2 separate regions of the Homo sapiens genome follow, and region 1 is linked to region 2. The links come from fine-mapping of genetic effects on gene expression. A gene starts in region 2. The other region holds a variant in brackets. All regions are shown on one strand. Distances are between the middles of the regions.

Region 1 (2,908 bases), 310 kb before region 2:
CTGAGCCTTGAAGGACAAGGATGGAGAAACAGCCAGGGCTTCCGGGAGGGAACCATGAGAGCACAGGCTGAAGACAGGAGGGGACAAGCATTTCAGGAAATGATGAAGCATTAAGGACAGTCAGGTGCAGACAGAGCCCAGAATGAGTGAGGCTTAAAGAACTGAAGGAGGCCAGATCATGACAGAGCCACAGATGCAGTGCTGAGATTGCATGGTTTCTTTTTTGTTTTGTTTTGTTTTGACTCAGAGCCTCGTTCTGTCGCCCAGGCAGGAGTGGTGCAACCATAGCTCACTGCAGCCTCCACCTCCTGGGCTCAAGCCATCCTCCTGCCTCAGCCTTCTGAGTATCTAGGAGTATAGGTATGTACCAACATGCCGGGATAAGCTTTTTTATTTTTATAGAGACAGAGGTCTCACTATATTGCCCAGGCTGGTCTCAAACTCCTGGCCTCAAACGATCCTCCTGCCTCAGCCTCCCAAATCACTGAGATTACAAATATGAGCAAGATTACATGTTATCATGGGGGAGGGGCGCATAAGATTCTCAGACCAGGAAATTACGTAATCAGAACATCATTTTAACACAGTGAACACACATCTCTGTCTGCCCAGGATAATCCACTGGCATAATTATCAATGGAACCCCCATTCACTCATAAAAGCACTTTCCTTTAGATGAAGAATTACATGATCACTCTCAGTTTAGATCACCCTGCTGTCCATGGGACACAGAAACCAGGGGCAAAAGGAGGCTGGACCAGAGAGCCATTCAGAGGCCATATCAACTATCCAAGCAGGAGGTAGGGACTTCCAAAGGCAGAGAACTCATGGGAAGGCAAAGTACTAGATCAAAGTACCAATTTGAAGGCAGATTCAACAAGACCGATTGATTACCAGACGAGTGATGGAGAAAGAAATAAGCAGACCCACTAGATGACTGACAGTTTAGTATCAGATATGGGGACTGGACAGGCTGAGCAGGACATTCTTGTGTAAGAGGGCAAGGAGCTGGCAATGAAAATCTGGAGCACAGAAGAGGCCAGAGCTGGAGATGTGGATTTGGCAGATGGCAGAATCCTGGGGACAATCATGGCTGAAGAGGGAGGGTGTGAGACCACCCAGGGAGAGGGTCAAAAAGATGACAGTGAGGGTACACTGAGATGATACTGAGACTTGTGCAAAAGAAAAGAAGATTCAGGGAGAAACAGGCTCATGGACACCTGTGGAGAAGAAGGTTTGGGGATGACTGCCAGGATCAACAGAGCCAGACGCTCCTGCAGGAGTGAGTAGGTTGGAAGAGGACAATGGGAAAGACCTTTGAAAGTTCCATTGCACCAGAACAGTGGGGCAGAGGCAAATTCAGTGGGTTGAAGAGGGAGTGGGAGGTAAGGAAGTGGTGTCAATAAGTACAGATGATTCTTTGGATAAATCTGTTAGTGAAAAGAAGGAAAGAGATGAGACTGTGGTTTGAGGGAATAATTTTTTTAAAAAAGAGGGGGCAGGGAAGCATTTGGGAAGTTAAATGTGGAAGTTGAACATATTTGAACACCGAGAGGAAGACAGTGGCAAGAAGAGGGGGTGTGAAGTTGCCAGAGATAACCATTTGGAATAAGGTAGGAACAGATGG[C/T]TTCTGCTCCAGTGGAGAGGCCATCCTTAGACAAGAGGTAGGACTCTGGAAGGAAGCGAGGCTGCACTTGGAGGGAGTGAATGCTGCAGGTGGTGGTGCCTATAGTAGTAGTATTATAACATCATTAGTAGTAACAATGAATGGTTAACCTTACTTTTTGTTTACATGCAAGTTCTCTGCATTGTTTAATCCTCACAACAGCCCCATTTTATATGTGAGAAAACTGAGCCCAAGAGAGGTTAATTAAGTTGCTCATAAACCACTGTAAAAATGCCAGAAGGTGGATTGAAATCCAGGTCTTTCCAATGGCATAGCCAGACTTGTGGGCCACTTGGAGTCAGTATAGACCAATGGCTCAGTCCTCTCAGTGAGCTGGAGGTGAAGTCATCTTCTGTGAATGATGGGGGTGGATGTGGAGGCCTGAGGAAGGAGGAGAAGAGTCGAAACAGCTGCTGGGAAGAATGCAGTAGGGATGAGCCAGAGAAAAGAGAGGGCACGGACAGCTTCCCAGGGGTACTGATAGTAGATTCCATCTCGTTCTTATCACCCTCATTCCCAGCCCCATTTCCTACCAGGGGCATGCACCCCATACTCTTCTCATTTATTTTGTGTCTTCTCTCCTCTAATCCCTCCATCAAAGGAAATAAGAGCCATGTGCTCAAGTGGAATGGGTCAGATTCTTCCCACTGCTGGAGGACTTGGTGATGGCCAGTGGGTAGAGCTGGGGAGGTGGTCCTCAGGGCCTTTGTCCCACCAAGAACACCCTTGGCCTGAAAGGCTTAGGGAAGCAAGGCATTCACCAGGCAACAGGGATTGCAGATGGAGTGTCTGGGAGCTGTGCCTCTGCGTTTAGAGGGCCAGCGTTGCTGTTTCTGCCTGGGCCCAGCCAATAGCAGAAGAGAGCTGGAGCCAAAGCACTTGTCCCAGGTGAACCAGCCATCTTCTATTCCATTAACAAGCCTGTTCATCCCGTGCGACCTCTTTCTACCAGAGATCTATTAATTTTAGCTAACAATCAGTGAAGAGGACACCATTTGATCCCAGAGCTTAAACCCATACTTCTTATTCACTGGTTTGACCACTTTGAAAATAGTAGCAGGATCAAATAGGCTGAGCCTCCCTCTTTGGACAGAACTTCATTGAATTGTAAATGGAAGGTGTTAGCCTTGGAGACAAGCTTAAAGATATGGTATTACTGCTTGTTGGATGTGGACCACCACTTATAAAAACCTACTAAGCCACTGGTCAAATTGATAGAATCCATACAGTACCAGAATCTAG
Region 2 (2,908 bases):
AAGAATCACACATCTTTCCTTGGGCCACACAAAGCAGTTGCTCTTCTGTTACAGGAAAAGGGTCCTGATCCAGTCCCCAAGAGAGGGTTCTTGGATCTCCCGCAAGAATTCAAGGTGAGTCCAAAGTGCAAAGTGAAAGCAAGGTTATTAAGAAAGTAAAGGAATAAAAGAATGGCTACTCTGTAGACAGAGCAGCCCCAAGGGCTGCTGGTTGCCTATTTTTATGGTTATTTCTTGAAGATATGCTAAACAAGGGGTGGATTATTCATGCCTCTCCTTTCTAGACCATATAGGGTAACTTCCTGACATTGCAGTGGCATTTGTAAACTGTCATGGTGCTGGTGGGAGTGTAGCAGTGAGGATGACCAGAGGTCACTCTCGTGACCATTTTAGTTTTGGTGGGTTTTGGCCAGCTCCTTTACTGCAACCTGTTTTATCAGCAAGGTCTTTATGACCCATATTTTTGTGCTGACCTCCTATCTCATCCTGTGACTTAGAATGCCTTAACTGCCTGGATAGGCAGTCCAGTAAGTTTCAGCCTCATTTTACCCAGCTCCTATTTAAGATGGAGTTGTTCTGGTTCACATGCCTCTGACACTTCCAGCTCTTCCACCCACACACATCTTCCCTGTCTTGGGGCAGAGGGCAGTAGCCTCGTACCCTGAGGATTCTTGAAGGTCTGGGGTCCGAGCAGCTCCATCAGAAGCCCCATCGGGGACCTCTGAGGGGTCAGTGACAGTCCCTGGGGACAGACGGTGGCTCCCCAGGACGCTTTCCCTATTAAGCCACTGGCAGAGTCCAGACACTTTCACTGGGTTGAGAGCTAGAAGGTCAGAGAGCGGGAGAGAATCCAGAGGTAGGTTCAGGGTTACTGTTTTGCTCAGCCCTGGATGGCCAGGCCCAGCCTCCCGCATTCTACTGGAAGGAGGAGGAAGATGGGTTTAGTTCTTCCCAGGGCAGGAGAGAGAAGCACAATTGTGGGCTGGGTTCCTCCTGCCTCTGAACACAGCGCCATCCCTTCTCCCAGGTGCTGGGCTGGGGTGTGTGGAAGATGAAGGAAAAGTGAATTAACTAAATAGGGTTCCTGCAGTGTCTGGAAAGCCTCTAAACCCCCGAGCACCTCAGGCTTCCCTGCCCTGATTCAGAGGTGAGGTTACCTAAAAGCCAAGGAAGCCTGGGCTTCGGGGACCCTCACTCACAGGCCCCCTTCCAAAAAAGCCCTGCACCTAAGCTTGTACTGGGACTTCTGTATTATTTTTCCCAAAGGGCGCTCCCCACGTTGTATACACTTCCGGCCCCCAAATCTGGATCCACCCTGGGAAGGGACAAACTGGGGGCAGCCTACCCACATTCGGCCAGCGGGGGGTCCGACCGGCCTTGGTATCTCCAAGCGAGGTAACAGTAGTCGCCCCTTGCGTCCCTCCCCCTCCGGGGCGCATCGCCCCTTGCGTGCAAAGCCCCGGCACCGCCACGAGTCTCGCCTCGCCCTGCACAGGTAAACAGCCGCTGGCCGCCGGCCGGCCGCCCTGCAGGGCAGCCCGGGGACCTGCCCCCGGCGCCACGCCCGGCGCCCCGGGGAGGCCCAGCCCGCAGGCCCCGCCGACTGGGCGCCGCGCCCTGGGAACGTGCACCGGGGCAGGCAGCCCGGCCTCACCTGGCCCCAGCGCGGAGCCGGATCACACCTGCCTGCTGGGTGAGCCGAGGGCATTCGCGGAAGGGAAGAGACAAGACCTGGGAAGGGACGCCTGTGGCTTAGAAAGACCCTCAGGCAGGGCCGGGCGTGGGGCGCGCTGATAAAAATTCCTGGAGCTGTATTATTCACATCGCAGATTTGTCCCTTTGCCTCAATCTAAAAGGAATGGGAAAGAACAGCCGCTGGGCTCTCATTTGCTTCCAGCTTACACAGATTCAACTATCAATTATCCCAGAGGAGAGGCGTGCAGTGCAGGGCGTTGGGCCACGAAACTGAAAGCTGCTGGCGAGGCGCGTGGGGGAGGTCGATTTCTGCGTCCTGCTGCCTCCACGCACAGTGAGAACCCACCCCGCCACTGCGTTCCTGTCCTCACAGGTAAAGTCAGGATAATAATATCTACCTCACGGGGGATTCGAGGAAGTGGTGGGAGCGTAAAGCCCCGTCTGGTAGAGTGAATACCTGAGCAATGGCCTTCCGGTCCCGTCTTCAGCACAGCAGGACGAAAATGTCTTCTGTTGGGATCCCAGAGAAGATCCAGACGCTGACACCTGCCCCTACCTCTCTACTTCTCATCATACCGGTCACCTGGAAGAAGGGTCCATTCAAAGCAAAGCCTGTAGCCAATGAGTTGTTTCTGCCATCAAACAGTCAAGCATATGAGGCCCAATAGGCAGTCCTGTTTTTTTTGTGACAGAGTCTCACTCTGTCGCCAGGCTGGAGTACAGTGGCGTGATCTCGGCTCACTGCAACCTCCACCTCCCGGGTTAAAGTGATTCTCCTGCCTCAGCCTCCCGAGTAGCTGGGATTACAGATGCACGCCACCACGCCGGCTAATTTTTGTATTTTTAGTAGAGACGGGGTTTCACCATGTTGGCCAGGATGGTCTCGATCCACTGACATCGTGATCCGCCCGCCTCGGCCTCCCAACGTGCTGGGATTACAGATGCGCCGGCCAGGCAGTCCTGTTAAGCCATGCCACACAGCTTAAAAAAAGACACTGGCAAGCTCAAGTCCCGAAGTTACCAGCTGAAGGAAGAGACTTAAACCAAACCAAGGGCTTCCTATGACAGTTCTGAAATACCCTCTTCCCTCTTGAGTCCATACAACTGAGAAAATAGAACGGCCAGTCACCGTGGCTCGTGCCTGTAATTCTGGCACTTTGGTAGGCAGAGGCAGGCAGATCACCTGAGGTCAGGAGTTTGAGACCAGCCTGGC

Which allele goes with the higher level. Alleles are on the strand shown, and positions count from the first base shown. SD is a standard deviation of normalised expression in the study named.
With allele C in place of T in region 1, the expression in lung of the gene that starts at base 1,447 in region 2 is lower (small effect, 0.19 SD a copy in GTEx).

The links.
Region 1: its variant is fine-mapped to the expression of LINC00511 in lung (GTEx, PIP 0.99).

What each region holds. Positions count from the first base shown.
Region 1 is chr17:72,332,411-72,335,318 of GRCh38, forward strand. No RefSeq gene overlaps it. Among named protein-coding and RNA genes, the nearest start is that of LINC02003, 8.9 kb to the right of the region's middle. The variant C/T (reference allele first, on the strand shown) is at 1,628.
Region 2 is chr17:72,639,026-72,641,933 of GRCh38, forward strand. LINC00511 (long intergenic non-protein coding RNA 511) reads right to left here and starts at 1,447. Exons shown (of 5, transcript NR_033876.1): 1 at 1,346-1,447. LOC105371887 (a long non-coding RNA gene) reads left to right here and starts at 1,650. Exons shown (of 4, transcript XR_934961.3): 1 at 1,650-1,693; 2 at 1,898-2,068.